Homo sapiens: one gene and its partners. The protein of the gene in region 4 purifies or fractionates together with the protein of the main gene of each other region. This does not show direct contact. Each region holds a gene or a part of one and is shown on either strand. Other genes may lie near its edges.

Region 1 (3,500 bases), on a different chromosome or scaffold from region 4:
AAAGAAAGGGATCACTCTTATGTTTCTGCAGTTTCCTAAATTTCTTCTACTGGTCCTGAAAATAAGTGATAAAATAGAGTCAATTTGCATCATCCTCAAGAGGTTCCATGACCTTTTTGGAGCCACTGACAACAAAGTCAGCTGAAGAAAGGAGGTTGGGTCTGTAGGGGTCAGAGAGGTGTATGTGTGAAGAGTTTTCTGTGGTGTGAGCTGTCTCAAGGTTTACATGTTTACAGTCCATTGTAATACAGAAATGGATTATATTTTCTTCTGTATTCCTGGCTGTAATGAATAAAACCCATTATTGGGTCAGGAACTTGAGTCTTCTCTCTTCTTGTCCTTTGTTCCTGTTTCAAGCTGTGGCATTTGCTTAAGCTTCCTGGCCACACACTCAGCCCTGATCCCCAGCCAACTGCTGTATGCTATTGTTGTGTCCACATCTTGAGGCTGGTTAGGCTTGGGTGTGGTGTAGAGCTCCTTTCTGTGGAAGCGTATACTCAAAAATACAGGACGTATGGGTGTTTGTCAGCTGTCATTAAGCAGCCTTCCCCTTCTTTTGTAAAGCTCTTGGGATTGAGGGGGTAAGAGAGATGCCTTACTAGGTACACTGTTATGCATGAAAAGTTTAACTACTTACTGTTTGTTCAACCTTGTCCTTGTTGTAACTAGGATTCCACATTAGTGGCTTTGTTGTTTTGCCTGGAGCTGCAGTCCTAGGTTGGGGGAGATTCAGAGTTCTAAGGCCATGTCCCTCTTGTATTTTGAAGTGTCAGCCTGTTCATATACAGAATGGCATCTCACAGTAGTGAAGCCTTCAGTCTCCTATAAGAGGCTCATGAAAAACCCTTCAGGGAAGCTGCTCCTAGAGTGTGGCTTTGCCATAGGAGACCCTGCCCCAGGACTCCTCTGGCCAAATGAGAGAGTCGAGGTTTGCTGGGGCAAAACTGTCTTATTGGGAAAAGGGAAGTAGAACACGGAAGGAAACTAGCATTTATTGTCTGGCACTTGATGTATGTTATTGCCCTTTAATCTTCATAAACAGCTCTGTGAGGTCAGTGTTATCCCAATCTTTGAGAATGGAGACATAGAGGCTAAGTAACATGCCCAGGGTTACACAGCTTGTAGGGATGGAGCAGAAATTCCAGTCATGCATAAATTTTGCTTTTGTCACTGTACAGTCTTGTAATATACTCATACACGTCTTTGTCAGTCCAGTTAGCAATTTGGAAAACTACTGGCCTCTGGCAGGATTAAGCTCTAATCACATCTTAGTGTTAATTACTTCAAATAGGTAGTAACTTCTAACATCTAGTTACTCATAAGCACTCAGGTTATGAATATTTTGATCCCTGGCCCATTGTTACCAGATTCCAGTAGCATTTCTTCCTTCCTCCCATCTATTCTTAGTACAGGTAGTATTTATTAAGTAACTTTAATTGTCAATAGTACTAGGTCCAAGGAATATTAAATTGAACTTCCCCGTCCTTAAAGAATTTACAGTTTCTGGAAGTGGGGATACAGACAGAGTGTGATATTTTTCTATGATAACTGAAGCACAAGGTACTTTGGGAGTGCAGAAGAGGAACACCTGACCTAAGTGTATGGGGGGAAAAGGAGAAAGTGCACATTGAAAAGGCTTTCCTAGAGAGCTGTTGAAGGAGATCTAAAAGTAGAAGTTAGTGGGGGTGAAGATAGTATTCCGCATAGAAAGAACTGCGCGTGGAAAAGGCCTACAGGCGAGAAGCCTTCATGCCATATTCAAGGAACTCAAGGTGTCTAGCTGAAGTACACAACTCTAGGGTGGATCAGCAAGTTCTGAAGCTAAAGAGGTGATAGATGGAAAGGTCATGAAATGGCCTAATAAGCCCTGGTAAGGAATGGAGCTTTATCCTAAGGTCAAAGAAGGCCAGTAAAGTCCAGTCAACAGGATAAGTGATGTGACTAAACTCTAGCTACATTGGGGCTTGCTGTAGAGTGGGATTAGAGGCAGGAAACCCAGTTAAAAGGCTGCCAACAGTGGTCTAGATAAGAGAGAGTAGTGGCTGAAGTTGGGTTGATGGCTGTAAGGACAGAGAAAACTAGAAAGACTGAAGAGAGATTTAGGAGGTGGCTGCTTGGAAGTGGGAGTTAGGTTGGAGGGAAAGGGTGCTGAGGATGACTCCCAGATTTCTGACTTAGCAGTTTGAATGTTGGCTCTCATTCACTCGTGCTGCCATTAACAAAGATAGGGAAAATAGTAGGAGAGGAAGGGAAGGAGTAAAAAGAGCTAAATTGGTGGTCGTGGTGGCTCACACCTGTAATCCCAGCACTTTGGGAGGCTGAGGCAGGTGGATTACCTGAGGTCGAGAGTTCGAGACCAGTCTGACCAACATGGAGAAACCCCATCTCTACTGAAAATACAAAATTAGCTGGGCATAGTGGTGCATTCCTGTAATCCCAGCTACTCTGGAGGCTGAGGCAGCAGAATCGCTTGAATCCAGGAGGTGGAGGTTGCAGTGAGCCGAGAGTGCGCCACTGCACTCCAGCCTGGGCAACAGGAGTGAAACTCCATCTCAAAAAACAAAACAAAAAAAAAACAGTGAAATTAAGAGGTTGAGAGGTAGAGTGAGAATCATGAAAAGTAAATTTGATTTTGACGTGTTGACTATGAGGTATCAAGCAAACAGTTAGCTATGTAGTACTAGAGCTTGGGAGAATGAGTTTGAACACTTCCGAGGAGAAGAAGGTCCAAAAGGCAACCACAGGAGGGTGGTTGAGGAGGAGGAGGAGGATGTTGTTGGATGACTGCTAAGCCAGAACATGGGTTAGTTCTTCCTCTTGGGTGTGAAAATCATCTAGGATAATAGCCAGCCTTGAGGTGGAGAGGAATACTGGGCAACAGGATCCAAAGTATTAAGTAAATAAGGTTGGGCATGGTGGCTCACACCTGTAATCCCAGCACTTTGGGAGGCTGAGGCTGTGGGATCACTTGAGGTCAGGAGTTCGAGACCAGCTTGGCTAATGTGGTGAAACCCCGTCTAATTTGTAAAAATAGAAAAATTAGCCAGGTGTGGTGGTGCACACCTGTAATCCCAGCTACTTAGGAGGCTGAGGTAGGAGGATCACTTGAGCCTGGGAGGCGGAGATTGCAGTGAGCTGAGATCGCGCCACTGCACCCCAGCCTGGGCAACAGAGGAGGACTCCATCTCAAAAAAAAAAAAAAATTAAGTGAATAAAGAAGTGATCAGGAAGCTACAGAGTGTTGTAACAAGGAGAGCTGAAGATTTAACAGCTGGATGACATGAACCACAGAAGAAAGGTGTTTTATTACTTGGTGGTGGTGGAATGGATGACCCAGAAGCAGCCCCATATCTCAACCCTATGATGTGGGAAGTGGCTGCCTCTCAGAGCATGTTGTAGGGGAAGTGGTGTGTGGTATTCCTGGGGAGAGCCAGGCTTCAGTTAGGGAGGAAGTAGAAGAGGCTGAGTAATTAAGTAACTACACAACAAGATCTCAGAGG
Region 2 (4,147 bases), on a different chromosome or scaffold from region 4:
TACCCTGGGTCCTGACTCAGGTGGGCTGGGTCATCCCCGTCCATCAGGGAAGGTAGTGCGGGCGCCCGCGGAGGGGCTGGTTCCCACGTTCGTCCTATCAGGTTCCCCACGTACTCCTTCGCCCAGTGTCCTGCGGCCGGGCCCGGCGGATTCAGAATGGGACCTGGCGTTCTGAGACACAGCCCCAGTGCCGGTAGTGGGGGGTGGTGGACTGCACTCCGGGGCCATTTAATGTCTTTAGGCCTTGAGTCTCGGCTTCGGTCCCAGTCAACGCCAACGGGAGAGGAAAGAGGAACCAAGTGGGGTCCCCAGACTTCCAAGCAAGGTGGGCTGGCTAACGTCCCTCCTACCTGTCGCAGGGCAGCTGGGTGAGAAGCTAACGGCTTGAAGGAACAGGGCTACAAGGGGAGTTTGTGCTGGGCCTGGCGTCCCAGGCTGTGGACTGGAACTGGACATGAGAACCCCCCCTACACCCTCCCAAGTCAAAGACACTCCAAAAAGACAGTTTCTCCACTTTATTAGCCTGGAGCTCCTCCCTGCCAGCCCCAGGGGCTGGTCGCTGGTCCCTGGGCACAGTGAGCAGGGCTGAGGTCAGACGGGTTCGGCCCTTGGCCATGGCAGCTTGGTTGGGACAGCCGGGCCAAGGGAAAAAAAGGTGCAAAAGTCCAAATGCTGGCACTTCAGGTGTGGCCGGCACCCAGCCAGGCGCAGTGGGTGGGCAGGGCGCCATGCTTCTCTCCTGGCGACAGGTCGGCCGTGTAGCAGCGCCCCCTCCCAGCAGCCACTAGGAACAGCTGGTGATTCTCGCCAGGAACTGCTGCGCCCACCACTCGTCTAGGTCAATGGGCACAAAGTCTGTGGGCAGAGAAGGCTGGGCAGTGATGCTGCCTCCCAGGCCAGCCGGCAAGTCTCCCCTGGAGCTAACCACAAGCCGCTCACCCGGACTCCGAGTGCGGCAGGCGCTGGGAAGAAGGGGTTTCTGCACAAGAGTCCCCTCCCTCATCCCCTGGGGTGGGAACCTGGCAGGGCCTGGGTCAGGATCAGAGGGGCTGGGGGGTCTCTCCTGGGGGGACAGGGTTGGGGGGCTCACTCTGCAGCCGGGGATTGGGGGTCCTCTCCACGTACTGCACAGGCCTTGGCCCGCCCTCACCGGCTGGGCCACCATCCAGCTGCTGTTGCACCTGCTGCCAGGCTGTGGGAGGAGGGCAGTCGGGCTGAGCCAGGTCCCAGGCACCCCATCGCCCACCCAGGGCCTGATGGTCACCCTGGACTCCAGCCCCACACAGGGCTGGTCACAGGACACAAGGGCAGAGTGCCAAGGAAAAGCACAGCCATGCAGCGGCTGTGGGTCAGCTTGAAGTGGGGCCATCCCGGGTCCATGGTTTTGCGACCCAGCAGCCTATGCCGCACCCTCTGGCCCCGCTCGCTACCTTCGGACACAAAGCGGACATTCTCCTCGTGGGCCACTGTGTAGGTCTCCTGGGTCCCCTCGAAGGATGGGGACGTGGAGGGGGCCCGCCGGCCATTCACACGATTGAACACAAGCCTTGGCCCTGGACTGCAGGAAGGGAGGAGACGGACATGGTTGGTGCCCATCCCAGGTGCGGTGCTGCCTGGCAGAACTCAGGAGCAGCCCCGGGCCAGCCCACTTTCCCCAGACTTGGCCAGCCTAGGCACTTCCTGAACCAGAGAGAGCAGCCACCCACAGCAGCCGGTGGCCCAGGCCTCTCTTGCAGTCCCCAAGCCATCGGCAGCTCAGCTCACACCTGCAGCCCTGTGTCCTGAGGGAAGTGAGTGACTGTAGGGTGGGGGCCTCAGTCTTAGAGTGTCCCAAACCTTTGGTCGGGCCCCACTCAGTACCCCTCCCCGAGGGTCTTGCAGGTGCCCATGCTGCCACCTGCATCCCATCAGCAGCCCAGATTCTGACCTGAGCCACGACCCAGTCCATGACCATGTCTCTCTGCCCCAACCCCCCCACTCTGGGTGTAGTTCTAGGCCACATTCTCGCCCCACAGAAGCACCTCCATCTCCACGATGTTTCCCTCCATGGACGGATGGACCTGGACGGGAACGGGGGCCTTTGCCCTCTCCCTGGCTGCCCCCACGTCCCATGGGATGAGGACTGGGTGCCGGGATGGGCAGTCCCTGAGTCGGGAGAGTGACTATAACCCTCGCCCACTCCCCACCGGCCCGAGACAAGGGGCGATGCCAAAGGAGATGGCTCCCGCAGTGCCGCACGCAACGTCTGGTGGGCCCCTGGGCCCGTCCCGGCCAGCCGGGCCCAGGGCAGGGATGAGCGGCCCCAGCTGGCCGAGCCCTGAGCACACAAAGCCCGGGACAGGGCCGTGGAGGGAATGGGGCCGCACCTACAGCCGGAGGTGGGAGCCGGGAGTCCTGGGCTGCGCCTGCTCCGCCAGGCACTCGCGGTCCCGGCCGGCCTGTTGCCTTCCTGGGCTCAGGTGCCCCAGCGCCGCTCTCGGTTCCTCCTCAGCTGAGAGGGGCACTAAAATAAAGAGGAGTGTCTTGAGGGGCGCAGGGTCCTGCCGGCCCCAGGGCTGGCAGGGTCTGGTGGCCACAGAGGATCTTAAAACGTGCAGGTGGAGATGGGACAGGGGCAGGGGCACCTCCCAGGCCTGCCCGCTGCCTGAGTTTCTGCACAAACCACAGGGAATAAAGTTTGTCCACTTGGAAAGCCCCCTTGCCTGCAACCCACTCCCACCTCGGAAAGCCAGAAACTCCAAGAAAGCTTGGAGGTTGGATTATCAATGTCTAAGAAGACAAGAACATTGCCAGGGGCTGTGAATCGAAGGGCGGAGGTGGCGGCTCTCGGGCAGAGATGGGCCCCAGGAGGCAGGCACCGCCCCAGGGGCTCTGGTTACGTAAGGCTGCTGCTCTCTGGGGGAAAGGGCACCGGCCCGGCGAGCACCTATGGATCACCGCCAACCTCTCCCACTTCCAGGGACACTGCTCCGGGCAAACTTCAGCCCAGGGAGGTGAAGGCTGTGGAGTGCATCCTCTCCTCTCCCCTCCACAGCCCATCCCTTTTTCAGCCCATGAAGCTGGGCTTGGGAGAGAATCCACCTGAGCATATTACATGCTGGGTGGGGGCAGCACCAGGATATCATAGCAAATCCAACAACAGAGTCCATGGCCCTGACCCAGTACAGCCCCCAAGCCAGCCCCTCAGCCTGCCCTCACTGGGCCTCCCCACCCCCGTCTCTTGCAGGCTGCCCCTTCTCGCCCTGTGGGGTTCATTCCATTGTCCCTTCCTGTGGCGGTCCCCACACCCTCCATCTGCCCTGGGGTCGGGTGATCACATGGCCCCGTTTCATCTTATTACTTATATCGCCTCAGTTTATCTTACTGCCTCCCCTATCCATCTCCCACCAGGAGGAAGAACTTGTCAAAGGTGTATCTGGGCTGGGCGTGGTGGCTCATGCCTGTAATCCCAGCACTTTGGGAGGCCGAGGCGGGTGGGTCGCCTGAGGTCAGGAGTTCAAGATCAGCCTAGCATACGTGGTGAAACTCTGTCTCTACTAAAAATACTAAAAATTAGCCGGGCATGGTGGCGGGCACCTGTAATACCAGCTACTCCGGAGGCTGGGGTGGGAGACTCACTTGAACCTGGGAGGCGGAGGTTGCAGTGAGCCAAGATCACGCCACTGTACTCCAGCCTGGCAACAGAGCAAGACTCTGTCTCAAAAACAAACAAAGGTGGCCGGGCGCGGTGACTCACACCTGTAATCCCAGCACTTTGGGAGGCCGAGGTGGGTGGATCACGAGGTCAGGAGATCGAGACCATCCTGGCTAACACGGTGAAACCCCGTCTCTACTATAAACACAAAAAAATTAGCCGGGTGTGGTGGAGGGCGCCTGTAGTCCCAGCTGCTCGGGAGGCTGAGGCAGGAGAATGGCCTGAACCCGGAAGGTGAAGCTTGTAGTGAGCTGAGATCACACCACTGCACTCCAGCCTGGGCTACAGAGCGAGACTCCATCTCAGAATAAAAATAAAAATTAAAAAAACAAACCAAGGTTTATCTGGTCTGTCACTGTCGTGGGCAGTGCCCAGACCCATGCCTGGCAGGAACCAGAGCCAGCATACATCATGGGTGACAAGCCTTGACCCTCTGGGTGCACCAGGAGATGT
Region 3 (4,152 bases), on a different chromosome or scaffold from region 4:
ATCTTAGACTACTTTAGGGCAGCTCTTGGATTAACACCTATTCTAGCAGTTTTCAACCAGTGACTTGCCTGCAACAGTGGTCCATAGAGAATCTAGATCTTAGGTTCCTGAACCTATTGTCACAATCACCTGGGAAGCTTTTCAAAAATGTATATTCTGGGGGCCCCTATTTCTAGTGATCAATTCGTTTGTAAAAGCTTCCCAGGTGTTTCTGATCAGCAAAGTTTGAGAACCTCTGGTCTAGACTTTGATTAGAAATGTCTCTGGATGAACTTTTCTTTCATTCAGACACGTATGCATGCAGCAGACGCTTACTGAGTATATACTGTGTTCTGGTCCACATTTTCACGACTACGATTTCACTTGCTATAATCCCCATGGCCACCCAGAAGCATGTTCCTATCACTAGACTTAATGTAGTGCCCTGCATATAGCTGGTCTCAATAATTAATTTATCCAATGAATACTATTTAATTTTTGGCACACTTATGCCTCATCTCTTCAGATCTACTCCGGGGGTAAAGATTGGGTTTTATATTTTTTTGTAGACCAAACTGTCTATCTGCATGCTTTCCCCATATAGTTGGGACTCAATAAATGTTCCTTCATTTGGCTATGATTTAAACCCATCTCAAGTCTTCTTTAATCTTTGTTTTTGATCTAAAAATAAGGCTATATGAAATAATGGGGGACAAAGGTTTTGATGACTCTGAATTCTACCCCTGTCACTTATTAGCTGTGTGATCTTGAACAAGTTCCTCAAACTCTAAGCTTCTGATAATTTATTCTCACAACAGAAATAATAACTATGGCCAGACGCAGTGGCTCATGCCTATAATCCCAGAACTTTGGGAGATCAAATGGGAAGGATTGCTTCAGCCCAGGAGTTCAAGACCAGCCTGGGCAACATGGCAAAATCCTGTCTCTATAAAAAAATTAAAAAAAAAAAAAATTAGCTGGATGTGGTGGTATGCAACTGCAGTCCCAGTTACTCAGGAGGCTGAGGTAGGAGGATTGCTGGGGCTTGGGAGCCGGAGGCCACAGTGAACCAAGATTGTGCCACTGCACTTCGGCCTGGGTGACAGAGCGAGGTCTTGTCTCAAAAAGAAATAGTAACTATGGGCCGGGCGCGGTGGGAGGCCGAGGCGGGCGGATCAGGAGGTCAGGAGATCGAGACCATCCTGGCTAACACGGTGAAACCCTGTCTGTACTAAAAAAAATACAAAATATTAGCTGGGCCTGGTGGCGGGCGCCTGTAGTCCCAGCTACTTGGGAGGCTGAAGCAGGAGAATGGCGTGAACCCGGGAGGCGGAGCTTGCAGTGAGCCGAGATCGCGCTACTGCACTCTAGCCTGGGCGACAGAGCGAGACTCCATCTCAAAAAAAAAGAAATAGTAACTACTCACGAGATTGTTGATGAGGATTAAATAATGCATGTAAAGCACTCGATGGATAGAAGGTACTATAACCATAGGAGGCAACTATAATTATTTTAACTACATGCCTCTCAAGTTCCTTATACGTAAAATGGATACTTCGTAAGTGAAAATATTGCCTAGGGCCTGGTGCATTTTCAGTGCTTATAAAATGTTAGGAACTAATTAACAATGCTATGTCTCTCTTTCCTAGCCAAGGTCTCTCATTTTTCCTGGATTAAGCCCTTTGGCAAAACAGATTCTTTCCCAGCAGCCTTTTCAGGCCTCAGACACCCCTACCAAAGCCAGTGTCTACTGAACAGGCCCAGAGGAGCCCAGAGGGAATGGATGGGGCTTAGGTTGCAGCTGTCCTCTCCTGCTGGGACCCTGTTTCTGGTGAGCAGAGGACTGCTGCTCTGCCAGCTGTGTGACACTTTCATCACTGGCTATTTCAAGATACAGTCCAAGATAAGCACTTCTCTTGTGCTTCCTTTCAGACAAAGCTCTCTGAAGACTAAAAGCTCATTGGCCTGACCTTTGGTCTCTGGAGGAAGTGAGGAAATATCATCCAGCTCGTAGACAATGAAGACACCAAGCACTCGAGGGATGAGATTGAGCAACAAGGTGGCAGAGCTAGAGAAGAGGCCTGATAAGAGTGTTCCAGAGCATTAATAATTGTGATAAAAATAATCTCTGTCTCTTGTGAAGGTCTTACAGTTTACAAGGCATCTTCACACATACTAGCTTGTTGGCTCCTCAACACTCCTCACCTGAGACTGATGGAGCAACAGTCATCTCCGTTTTAGAGAGGAAGAAACTGAGTCCCAGAGTTGTATGATTTGCCCAAGGTCACAGAGGGTGAGAGGCAGAGCTGGCCTAGAACCGGGTCTGCTGACTTCGAGTCCAGGGTAATCGCGGATCGGAAAGAAGGAATGGGGACCCTTCTTCCACCGCCATGAAAAACAGAAAACTGAGAGTAAGAGTAAAGTACACAAAGGGTGGAGGAGCATAAAGAAGCCCGGGGTTCAGGGATGTGAGGCTGCAGGGTGAAGGTAGGGCCGAGGAATCAGGGTAGGGCTGTGGGGTCCAAGGTGGGGCTGCGGGGGCTGGGTCCTGGGACGGGAGCTCAGTGGGGATTCCAGGGGCACTGGCCGTTAAAAGTGCGAGGCGACCGTGGGAGGGTCAAGGGAGCGGGTGGCTACAGGTGTCTGAATAGGAAACGTAAAGGACGAAGATTAATGTGCAATTCCTATGACTGAGAGACGCCGAGGCCCCAAACCGGGCCAGAATACAAAAGTCTGCAGGAAGCTCAATTGAGATATAGGTGTTTTCTCCAATCAAACTTACCCAGTCAAGCTGATTCCTCAGAAGCAGCCCCAGACGTTTAACTCGACGGAAATGAGAAACGACCCATGAACCCGTGGCCCTTTGGTCGTCGTAGTTTCCAAGGCTCAAAATGGACGCTTGGAAGCACTTCTCGTTCCTCAATCTAGAACTACAATTCCCGATGTACAGTGCGCGAGATTGCGCATTACAACTCTAAAACTACACCTCCCAGAGTTCTACGCGACCGTCCAGCCCCGCGTGGTCGTGCGAAACCGCCCAAGGCCTGGGATGCGGTGTGATTCCTCCCCCTGGTGGCCTGAAGAGGTGCCGCCGCGATTTCTGCTCTCGAGCGGAGGGTTTTGCCTTAGTCCCGTGCGTAACCCTCCGCCTCACCCTCCTCAAATAGTCCTCAGGCGTGCCTAGAAATGGTCCCCGCTTCGCTTTATTCTCAAGGAGGTGGGAGGAGGTTGGAGTTTGTTTTGTGTCTTCTGCACACTTTGCTTCCTGTAAGAATAATAGACTGATCATTCAAATTAAGGGGACATTCCCTACCAGCCTGCATCTGTTGACACCTGTGATTTTCCATTGTCCTCAAAAGACTCCCTGGCAGAGAAAGGGGAGGAACCCGAGTAATCTGCTGGGCCGCATCCATCCCACATTACTGTCTAATGCTGGTTCTTAGCGACACTGATGGACAAGATACCGCTCCTAGCCTCAACAGAATCACAGTCTAGCAGAGAATTCAGACAAATGAATAATGACAGCACAGAGCCGTGATCTCATGGGGAGACACAGCAAGCGTGGGAGCCTTGAAAAGGGGCCTCTGGCCAGGCTTGGGGGAAAAGGGCGGTGTCCGCAAGGCTTTTTAGAGGGAGTGATGTTTGTTAACATTGAGACCCGATATAAGGAAAGAACGTAGCCAGGAGTACAGAGACTGTGAAGGACGTTTCAGAGTATGGCATTAAGTTCAGTGCTGGCTGCAGCTAAGTGTGAGGGATGGAAGGAGAGTATTCTCGGGGGAGTGGGCGTTAGGCAGAGCCCATCCTCAGGAGTTCTGTAAACTTCTATAGGAAATTTGGATCGTTCAGGCAGCTCAAAAACGTTCAACGGCCCTCTACTACCTATGAAGTGAAGTCCCAACTGCTTAGCCTGACATTCAAGGTCTTCTCCAACCTGCACTCCCCCACGCCCCACCCCCCACCCTTCAGCGCCCCTCCTCTGGGAGCTTTGTTCATGCCTCCAAAGTTTCCGCCGACATCTGTGTGTGCCTCGCACATGTGAGTCGACTCACACTGCCTTGGGTATCTCCTGTATTAGAGGTCTTAACTCTTGACACATTGTGAGCTCTTTGAGGTCAGGTACTGAGTCCTGCAGTCGCCCCCTCCACCCTACTCTTGCAGCCCACATCCCCC
Region 4 (3,500 bases):
GCCACCGCACCCAGACAGTCTGGGTTCTTTCACTCAATGTTATGTTCAAGATTAATCCATGCTATTGCATGCATGGCTACTGATATGGCTTGGCTTTGTCCCCACCCAAATCTCATCTTGAATTGTAGCTCCCACAATTCCCACGTGTTGTGGGAGGTAATTGAATCATGGGGCCAGGTCTTTCCCATGCTATTCTTGTGACAGTGAGTAAGTCTCACAAGATCTGATGGTTTTATAAAGGGGAGTTTCCCTGCACAAGTTCTCTTCTCTTGTCTGCCACCACGTGAGACATGCTTTTCACCTTTCACCATGATTGTGAGGCCTCCCCAGCCACGTGGAACTGTGTGAGTCCATTAAACCTCTTTCCTTTATAAATTACCCGGTCTCTGCAATGTCTTTACCAGCAGTGTGAGAACAGACTCATACAGCTACTTCATTCCTTTCTGTGGCTGAGCCACATTTCATTGCATGGACAGATCACATTCTGTATCCATTCATCTACAGACGGACATTTGGGTTGTGTTCACCTTTTGGCTGTTACAAATAATGCTGCTGTGAAGATTCATATACACGTTTTTATGTGGGAGCACGTTTTTCTTTCTCTTGGATAAATACCTAGGAGTGGAATTGCTGGGTCATATGGGGGCTTCATGTTTAACTTTTTGAGGAGCTCCCAAATTATTTTCCACAATGAGTGTGCCATTTTCCATTCCCATCAGCAACATAGGAGGGTTCCGATTTCTCCACATCCTTACCAATACTTTAAAATATATATACATATAGCCCAGCCTGGGCAACATGGCGAGATCTCATCTCTACAAAAAATAAAAATGTTTTTTAATTGTCCAGGTGTGGTGGTACACACCTGTGGTCCCAGCTACTCAGGAGGCAGAGGTGGGAGGATTGCTTGAGCCCAGGAGTTCAAGGCTGCAGTGAGCTATAATCGCACCCCACAGCACTTCAGCCTGGGTAGAATATTTTTTTCTGTCTGAAAAAATAAAACTAAAAATAAATAAATAATAAAAATATAGCCATCCTAGTGGGGGCTAAGTGTGAAGCAGAGGCTAAGCTTTTAGGATCAGTGTCACAATCATGGGTCCCTCTGCTCTGGTCTCCTGCCCTGAGGCAGCTGGGGAGGAGCCCCACCACTCCGCTGCCTGCCAAGTTCAGGTGCAGGGCCTTTGCACCACAGAGAAGCTTGATCCTTCGGAGGTGAGGTAGCAGGACCTCTCAAATCGACATCACACCCTGACCCAGGAGAAACTGAGCCCAGCTCCCCAAATTCCAGGATGGTGACCACCAGATTCCAGTAGGCCCTGGCTTTGAGGAATCTCTGTTGGGTTGTGAGGGGCTGCTGGGAGGCTCTTACCACACAGTGCCCGCCTGGAGGGCCTGGGACAGGTAATTGGCCTTGTCCAAATCCTTTGTGAAGACAGCTGCGGCCAGCCCGTACGTGGAATTGTTGGCTCTCCCAACAACCTCCTCTATGGTCTTGAACTTCAGGATCTGCATCACTGGCCCGAAGATCTGGAGTGAGAGAGCAGCGTAGGAGGGTTCGGCAACACGGAGGCACCTGCCATCGAGCTCTCTCAGAGCAGAACAGATGATTCCAGATTGGGGGATAAGCCCCCAGCCATGCTCTAACAGTTCCAGGGGAAGACAACAGCCATCAAGCTCAGCAGAACACAGAGGGAATGGAGCTAACAGGGGCCAACTTCCTCCTGTGCGCCCCGGGCTTTACATACAGTATCCCATTTCTAAACAATCCTGCCAGGTATGTTATTCACACGTGACACGTAGATTTAGTGTCAAAGAATTTAAGTCAGCTGGGCATTGTGGCTCATGCCTGTAATCCCAGCACTTTGGGAGGCCAAGGTGGGAGAACTGCTTGAGTCTAGGAGTTCGAGTCCAGCCTGGCAAACACAGAGAGACCCTGTCTTTACTCAAAAAAAAAAAAAAAATTTTTGGCCAGGCACGATGGCTCACACCTGTAATCCCAGCATTTTGGGAGGCTGAGGCAGGTGGATCACCTGAGGTCAGGAGTTGGAGACAAGCCTGGCCAACATGGTGAAACCCCATCTCTACTGAAAATAAGAAAAATTAGCTGGGCGTGGTGGTGTGCGCCTGTAATCCCAGCTACTAGTAGGGTCTGAGGCAGGAGAATCGCTTGAACCCGGGAGGCAGAGGTTGCAGTGAGCTGAGATTGCACCACTGCACTCCAGCCTGGCGACAGAGTGAGACTCCATCTCAAAACGAGAAGAGAAAAAATAAGCCGGGCGTGGTGGCTCATGCCTGTAATCCCAGCACTTTGGGAGGCCGAGGCAGGCAGATCACGAAGTCAGGAGTTCGAGACTAGTCTGATCAACATGGTGAAACCCTGTCTTTACTAAAAATACAAAAATTAGCCAGGCGTGGCTAAAACTGGAGACAGAGTCCCGCTCTGTTGCCTAGGCTGGAGTGCAGTGGCGCGATCTCGGCTCACTGAAACCTCTGCCTCCCAGGTTCAAGCGATTCTCCTGCCTCAGCCTCCAGAGTAGCTGGGATTTCAAGCAAGCGCCACCACGCAGGGCTAATTTTTTCTTATTTTTAATACAGACAGGGTTTTGCCATGTTGGCCAGGCTGGTCTCGAACTCATGACCTCAGGTGATCCACCCACTTCGGCCTCCCAAAGTGTTGGGATTACAGGCGTGAGCAACTGCACCCAGCCTGTACTAAAAAATTTTTTTAAAATTAGCCAGGCATGGTGGTGAGCACCTGTAGTCCCAGCTACTCAGAAGGCTGAGGTGGGAGGATCATTTGAGCCCAAGAGTTCAAGGCTATAAGGAGCCATGATTATGCCACTGCACTCCAGCCTGGGCAACAGAGCAAGAATCTGACTGAAAGAAAAAAGGTCATGGGAAGGAGCAGACAATGTCATTCCTAGACTCCTGGCTCTGAGGGCCAGGACACCAAGGCCTGCAGGCCATGCTGAGGAATGCAGACGATCTCCCAGACAGAGGGTACAAGCTGAAGAGGAGGGACAAGATCAGATACATACTATGAATAGCGTGTTATGGGCACTGGTTCTGGGTATAACTTGAGATCTGGCCCCAAGCCAGCAGATGGGTGACAGCATCAGGATGCCAGGCTGAACTGTTTACCTCACCTCCCGCCAAGAATGTTTCCAGAGCACTGGCCCCAAGTGCTCACCTCCTCCTTGGCGATGGTCATGCCATCCTGCACATCTCCAAACACAGTGGGCTGGATGAAGTAACCACGGTCAGCAGCAATGCCCCCACCACACAGCAGCTTCGCCCCCTCTTGCTTCCCCGTGTTGATGTAGCCGAGGATCTTCTTAAACTGAGTTTCATCCACCTGTGGGAGAAGGAACCCAGAGTTATGGAGACATCGGATTCAGACCTCTCCTAGGCTTCAGGCTTAGAATTATGCAGGCAACAAGACAACTGGGAAATGGACCAAGGTCATAAGAAAGCAAGATCAGAAGAGGAAACACACAGGG
Region 5 (3,500 bases), on a different chromosome or scaffold from region 4:
CCACCACACCTGGCTAATTAAAATAAATTTTTTTTTTTTTTAGAGATGGGTTCTTGCTGTGTTGCCCAGGCTGGTCTCAAACTCCCAGCCTCAAGCGATCCTCCAACCTCAGCCTCCCAAAAGTGTTGGGATTACAGGCATGAGCCACCGTGCCTGGCTCAAATCTTTTCATATGTGAACATCTCAGCATGTTTTCTTTCTTTCTTTTTTGAGATGGAGTTTCGCTCTTGTTGCCCAGACTGGAGTATAATGGCGTGATCTTGGCTCACTGCAACCTCTGCCTCCCAGGTTCAAGTGATTCTCCTGCCTCACTCTCCCAAGTAGCTGGGGATACAGGTGCCCACCACCATGCCCAGCTAATTTTTTTGCATTTTTTTTTTTAGTAGAGATGGGTTTTGCCGTGCTGGCCAGGCTGGTCTTGAACTCCTCACCTCAGGTGATCCACCCACCTTGGCCTCCCAAAGTGCTGGGATTACAGGCGCAAGTCACTGCGCCCAGCCTCATCATGTTTTTTTCTTAAAAGATAAAGACTTTTCTTTTTACTACAACCACAATACTATTGTCAAAACTAAACTTTAAAAATTTCCTTGGTGTTATCAAACATTCAATGTCCAGATTCCAGTGGTTTCATAAATAGCCTAATTTGCTTTTAGTTTGTTTGAATTAGGATCTAAGTAAAATCTACACTTTGTGATTGGTTAGTATGTTTTAAGAGTCTTTGAAACTTTATTTTTTTGATTAAAAAATGTTTAATTTAGAGATAGGGGTCTCACTATATTGCACAGGCTGGTCTCAAATGCCCCAAAGTGCTGGGATTACAGGTATGAGCCACCACACCTGACTGATTCTTTTTTTTTTTTTTTGAGATGGAATCTCACTCTGTTGCCCAGGCTGGAGTGCAGTGGCGCAACCTCGGCTCACTGCAACCTCCGCCTCCCAGATTCAAGCGATTCTCTCACCCCAGTCTCCCGAGTAGCTGGGATTACAGGCGTGCACCACCACACATGGATAAATTTTGTATTTTTTTAGTAGAGACAGCGCTTCACCATGTTGTCCAGGCTGGTCTCGAACTCCTGACCTAAGGTGATCTTAGGCCCACCTTGGCCTCCCAAAGTGCTGGGATTACAGGTGTGACCACCACGCCCAGCCAATATGTGGTCTTATGAGAGCATTGGTTCTTTTTTTTTTTTCCCTGAGGCAGGGTCTCACCCTGTTGCCTAGGCCAGAGTGCAGTAGCTCCATCATAGCTCACTGCAGCCTCCAACTCCTGGACTCAAGGGATCCTCCCACTTCAGCCTTCTGAATAGCTAGGACTACAGGCGTGTGTCACCATGCCCAGCTAATTTTTAAAATTGTTTTTGTAGAGATGGGTTCTCACTATGCTGCCCAGGCTGGTCTCAAACTCCTGGCCTCAAGCGATCCTTCTGCCTCGGCCTCCCAAAGTGTTGGGATTACAGGCATGAGCCACCGCCCCTGGCCGAGCATTGATTCTTGATCCTCATGTGCATCTGAGTCACAGAGCAGGGTGGGGGCTGGCTCTTCCCCAACCTGGATCCCTGGAAACTACCCCCAGAGATTCTGGTTCACTGGGTTGGAATGGGCCTGAGCATCTGAAAGTTTGAAAAGCTCCCTGTGATTCTGGTGTGCAGCCCAGGCAGAGGCCCCACTGTGTCCACTTCTCTTGAAAGGAGTGGTTCACACCAACACCCCCACTTCCCTACCTCCCGTGCGCTCCTCGAGCATGACAATGTGGCTTCTGCCCCCGACACATGGCACAAAAACCGCTCTGGCACAGGCCTCACAGTTGCTAAGTGCAGAGCCCCATCCTCAGTCTTCCTTCTATTTACTTCTGCTCACCTCCCAAAACCCTCTTCTCCTTCCCAGGTACCCACTCCTGATGATGCTTCTCTTTTTGTTGGACATGCCCTGTGGGTTCTTTATCTTATTATTTTATTTTAGAGACCGTGGCTTGCTCTGTCACCCAGGCTGGAGTGCAGTGGTGCAATCACAGGTCACTGCAGCCTCCAACTCCTGGACTCAAGCCGCAGCCTCCCGAGTAGCTGGCGAGTAGCTGGGACTACAGGCGTGCACCCCCATGCCCAGCTAACTTTTTCTTTTTTTCTTTTGTTTTTTGAGACGGAGTTTTGCTCTTGTTGCCCAGGCTGGAGAGCAATGGCACTATCTCGGCTTACTGCAACCTCTGCCTCCCAGGTTCAAGCGATTCTCCTGCCTCAGCCTCCTGAGTAGCTGGGATCACAGGCGCCCACCACCACGCCTGGCTAATTTTTGTATTTTTAGTAGAGACGGGGTTTTGCTATGTTGGCCCCGGAGTTCAATTTTTGTATTTTTAGTAGAGACGGGGTTTCACCGTTTTCACCAGGATGGTCTTGATCTCCTGACCTCGTGATCCTCCCGCCTCGGCCTCCCAAAGCGCTGGGATTACAGGCGTGAGCCACCGCGCCTGGCCACGGCAGCATCTCTTCTGAACTCCAGAGCCATTCCCTACCACCCTCTGGGCACCACCATCCACATCTCCTGCTGCCGCCTCAGCCTTAACCTCTGCAAAACCAAATCCGTTCTTTCTCTCGAGCTCTGCAGAAGCTAAGCTGTTTCACCAGGCCACGATTCAGGAAACGCTTTGGGATTCAGCTTCTGTTCTTGTGAAATGGGAAGAATCCCTGTGGTGAGCTCCAGATGAGAGCACAAAGGGGAACAGGGGTGCCCGCGGCTGGCACGCCATGGCTGGCACGCCATGGCACTCAGTGGGGTCACCGCCCCCTCCTGCTGTCCCACCTCCACCCTGCCTGCTCTTCTCCTGGAATGACTCCTTCTGCCAGCTCTCAGCTACCCAGGCCAGAGGCCCAAGGCTCCCACATCTCTTTAGCTACTAATTCTGGTAGATCCCCTTTTGGAAATAGCCCTCAAATCTACCCCAGAGCTACTGTCAAAGTTCAGGGCTCCATCTCTTTTGGTTTTTTTGAAAATATTTTTTCAAATTAATTATTTGTTGGCCGGGCGCAGTGGCTCACACCTGTAATCCCAGCACTTTGGAAGGCCGAGGCAGGTGGATCACCTGAGGTCAAGAGTTCAAGAACCAGCCTGACCAACATGGTGAAACCCCATCTCTACAAAAATACAAAAATTAGCCAGGGATGATGCTGCATGCCTGTAATCCCAGCTACTCGGGAGGCTGAGGCGGGAGAACCACTTGAACCCGGGAGGCAGAGGTTGCAGTGAGTTGAGATCACACCATTGCACTCCAGCCCAGGCGACAGTGAGACTCCGTCTCAAACAAAAAAAAATTATTTGTGGAGGCAGGGTCCCACTATGTTGCCCAGGCCTCAAGTGGCCCTCCTGCCTTGGCCTCCCATAGCACTGGGATTACAGGTGACAGCCACCGCGCCCAGCCTACTTTTTGTCTGGCCAAGACTACCTCAGCCTTCTTTTGCCTCCCAATCTGTCTCCAGTTGGTGGCTGAAGTGACCCTTCTGGAGCAAAAC
Region 6 (3,500 bases), on a different chromosome or scaffold from region 4:
ATGTCTTTGCTATTGAATAGTATTGAATAGTACTGTAGTGAACATATGTGTGCTTGTATCTTTATAACAGAATGATTTATATTCCTTTGGGTATACACCTAGTAATAGGATTGCTGGGTCAAATGGCATTTCTGCCTCTAGGTCTGCGGAATCACCACACTATCTTCTACAATGGTTAAACTAATTTACACTCCAGGTGGGAAGAACTTTCTAAGGGTATCAAACACCAGATAATTTATCCCTATCTACAATTAAAATACAAGGTTGAATAAACCGAAAGAAATGAAAGTCTAACAAAGATTTTGTTTTTCCCATTTTGAACTAGTGAATGGTCACTGATGGGAAAAGATGGGAATTTTTCTAAGCACCTAAGAAATAAAAATAGAGCTAATAAAAATATCACTGACGCTTCAGAGAACAAGGAAATCCCCAAGGTTTTGATGAATCAGTAAATGTTCTCAATCTCTCCCTTCCAGAGAGGTATTAAATGTTTATCTTGGGAACAGCTGTTAATAAAAAGTTCTAGTTTAAGGTCAAGGTAACTTAAGTCTTCTAAAGCAATCTGTCTTCTATCATGGAAGTGAATGTGACAGGAATGTTGTCAAGATTAAAGCTGAGCCTCGGAATTACTTGGTGTCATGTCTCTCAATGATTAGACTAGTCCCAGCTGGCTAGTTGAATTTAGAGCTAAATTACAGTTTCCTATATAAAGAAAGAAATGTAAAGAAAAACATTTTCCATCCATATAATTCTTGAATTGTTAAGAAGTTAAACAGGCCTGGAGTTTTAGGCCACCAAACCTGTAAAATGTACCAAGTATTATCTGCCATTTTTCACAGATCAAAAGATGGATCTGATAGAAAATGGGTACAGATGCAGGGAAACAGATATCTCAAAAGACTTGTGTGACCAAGTTCCAATGTGACTGAGTATGCCATATTTTTATCCTTAGTTTCTTGTGTGTTAAGAGCCATCAGACACATATGAATAGCCATCATTATTATTAGAGAAGTCCCAAGGTAAACCCAGGAATATATTGCAAGACAAGACATCTAAAATCCAAAACAAATGACCATAAGTTCCATAATGATAAAGATTCACCTATATGAGAAAGAAGAAAATGCCTGCCATTGAGGGCCCAAGAATTTTAAAAAATGTCAACAAAAAGGCAATAGAATACATTTGAACAATTGGTATCCTGCTGAAGTTACACAATTCGAGCTAATTGTATCATCCCTGACGAGGGTTTCTATTTATCAGTCTTATTAAATGGGGATGGCTTCTTTAATTAAATTCTTTGATGAATGAGTTGGTATGATATGTTAAGCAGCTTGTGCAAATGCCTATGTTTAGTGACACTTGAAGGGGACTTTTCTCCTCTACCTCACACTTTAAATGGAAAATCCTTGGTAGCAAAACTCTTGACTCCTGGAGTATAAAAATAAATGAACACCTTTCATTCTTTCATTCTTCACTCAGCTCTCAAAAAGGGAGCAGTGCTCCAGCAGCTATGATGGATGTTTATCCTAACAGGCAGTGTTTTCTTATATATTTTCCAGACCCAATTAGAAAAGCTTGGATAAGAATCCCCAGGTTATTAAATCTCTTCAGTGTATAAGGAGGAAGACTTTGCACTGTATTCATTTAACAAGTATTGAGAGTCTCTGTGCTAGATACCTATGCTAAATAAGCATGGGATACAGAGATGAATGAGAGAGCTCTACATTTCTGGGATTCTCTGCCATGTTCTTACTCTTCTCTAGCAGGCAGATGCAGAGGCTAAAACAGCCTCTCAATCTTCAAAAAGGTCCTGAGACTTAAGGAGGTAGTATAGCCTCTCCTTCTATTCCACAAAAAGAGATTACTATTTCTGGAAACTTCTTCACAGTATTAGGTCACTAAATTTTTTTTTCTCACTGTGTAACTCCAATAACTAAAGATAAGACATACTAGGCCCTTCTTTTTCAGACTAAGATTTGATCTCTGTACACTAGATATCAGAATTCTGCTACCTAGTATTTTTTTTTCAATTTAGATTCCCTGAAGCCAAAATAGAAAAAGAAAAAATTATATAAAATAATAACCAAATAAATATCCCCGATGCACTAACCCCTCTCTCTAAAAAATTTTTTTTGACATTCGACAGAGTATAAATATAAATTGTGAGCATTTAACACCATTAAAAAGAGGTAAAAGAATGAAGTTGAGTAAATCATGTGCATGATTGTAATTATTTTCTTTATTCTTTCTCAGATCGTTTATTTATATATATCCCCTATTATTTTCAGCTTATTTTTTACAGCTTCTATCCCACAAGGAAATACAGTTATACTATACTTGTAATCAAATGATAAAGCAGGTGATAAAACTCGCAGACCCAGGGTAATCTTGGGTCAAAGCTGGCAAGAAAATCTGAAAGCAGACTCTCTGGAGCCACTACTTAGGCATGCTCATTCAGTTGTTGATTCAATTACAACGAATCTCAACGAAATCCGCTTCAAGCTATGTAGTCCACTCTTAACCCGACCATGCTGGAAGTAAAGTGAATAGAAAATTGCACCTGAGCTCAACATTGTGACTCTGGTGCTTTGAATACTTTCTTACTTTTTTAGAAGAATTGAATGGTTTGTCTTGACTCCTCATTAAGTATAGCCAACTATGTGTTCTAGTTGCTTGGGATACAGGCATTTTAGAAACAAATAAGTGGACTTATTTTTCCCTCCAGGAATGTCATCATGTTCTAACTGTGCTGTTTTTATAACAAACTTGAGATTTTCAGACTTTGTTGGCAGGCAGAATCATTGTAGAAACAACAGAAATTTTGGGCCCAGTCTTTGGGGAAGCAAATGAGGTATCCAACATGGGTAGTGCCAAGAAATTAAGGTCATTTGGAAAAAACATGGTTTGGTACGCACTTATAGCTATAGTTATTGCAGTTAAACGTATTACTATATTTATAGTCAAATTGGTATTTGGATTTCTCAAGGCTGGTTGTTGACCTAAAATTTAATTGTGATGGTAAATGTTCAAATAAATCTAAAACAAAATTCTATTACTCAAGGATGGACACTAAGAGACAAACAGTATATCATGTATTAGTTTTTGACATTTTCTCACTATATAGTTCACATGTGCAAAATATCCCTAAAAACAGGAAGACTGCTCAGATCTTCTGCATAAGTTACGTAGGCAGCAAGCTATGCACAATTTCTCCTTGTGCTAGCTCTAATTCCATTCCTTTGCTCCTCAGGAGAATATCATGCCGTCTGAAAATGGCTTGATAAATGACAGGAGGTCAGTATTTGCAGTTAAATGGCCTTAGTTCCAGTTCTGGTTCCACCACTTACTAGCTATGTGGCCTTAGATAAGTAGGTTACTTCTCTGAGCCTGTCTCCTCATTTGTAAAACAGATGGATAGGAAAGAAATGATATCTCATTTGGCGGTATAAGAATTAACAATGAGTTAATGCTGTGAAAGCATTTTACAAACTAATGTACCA

The links.
Region 1: the proteins of ALDH2 (region 4) and HEXA fractionate together in Homo sapiens (co-fractionation; one large-scale study listed by BioGRID). This does not show direct contact.
Region 2: the proteins of ALDH2 (region 4) and MCRIP2 purify together in Homo sapiens (co-immunoprecipitation; one large-scale study listed by IntAct). This does not show direct contact.
Region 3: the proteins of ALDH2 (region 4) and PAFAH2 fractionate together in Homo sapiens (co-fractionation; one large-scale study listed by BioGRID). This does not show direct contact.
Region 5: the proteins of ALDH2 (region 4) and QPRT fractionate together in Homo sapiens (co-fractionation; one large-scale study listed by BioGRID). This does not show direct contact.
Region 6: the proteins of ALDH2 (region 4) and ESD fractionate together in Homo sapiens (co-fractionation; one large-scale study listed by BioGRID). This does not show direct contact.

Annotation. Positions count from the first base shown.
Region 1 is NC_000015.10:72,366,015-72,369,514, reverse strand, and holds part of HEXA (beta-hexosaminidase subunit alpha isoform 2 preproprotein), read left to right. Parts: intron 1-3,500. UniProt on the Homo sapiens protein: Hydrolyzes the non-reducing end N-acetyl-D-hexosamine and/or sulfated N-acetyl-D-hexosamine of glycoconjugates, such as the oligosaccharide moieties from proteins and neutral glycolipids, or from certain mucopolysaccharides.
Region 2 is NC_000016.10:644,828-648,974, reverse strand, and holds the end of MCRIP2 (MAPK regulated corepressor interacting protein 2), read right to left. Parts: intron 2,504-4,147; exon of another isoform or gene 2,367-2,503; intron 1,559-2,366; coding exon 1,431-1,558; intron 1,193-1,430; coding exon 1,091-1,192; intron 856-1,090; coding exon 785-855; 3' UTR 501-784; downstream 1-500.
Region 3 is NC_000001.11:25,995,264-25,999,415, forward strand, and holds the start of PAFAH2 (platelet-activating factor acetylhydrolase 2, cytoplasmic), read right to left. Parts: upstream 2,801-4,152; 5' UTR 2,762-2,800; intron 2,359-2,761; exon of another isoform or gene 2,210-2,358; coding exon of another isoform or gene 2,185-2,209; intron 1-2,184. UniProt on the Homo sapiens protein: Catalyzes the hydrolyze of the acetyl group at the sn-2 position of platelet-activating factor (PAF) and its analogs, leading to their inactivation. Hydrolyzes propionyl and butyroyl moieties approximately half as effectively as PAF.
Region 4 is NC_000012.12:111,797,933-111,801,432, reverse strand, and holds part of ALDH2 (aldehyde dehydrogenase, mitochondrial isoform 1 precursor), read right to left. Parts: intron 3,356-3,500; coding exon 3,191-3,355; intron 1,600-3,190; exon of another isoform or gene 1,528-1,599; coding exon 1,370-1,527; intron 1-1,369. UniProt on the Homo sapiens protein: Required for clearance of cellular formaldehyde, a cytotoxic and carcinogenic metabolite that induces DNA damage.
Region 5 is NC_000016.10:29,682,180-29,685,679, forward strand, and holds part of QPRT (nicotinate-nucleotide pyrophosphorylase [carboxylating]), read left to right. Parts: intron 1-3,500. UniProt on the Homo sapiens protein: Involved in the catabolism of quinolinic acid (QA).
Region 6 is NC_000013.11:46,773,162-46,776,661, forward strand, and holds part of ESD (S-formylglutathione hydrolase), read right to left. Parts: intron 1-3,500.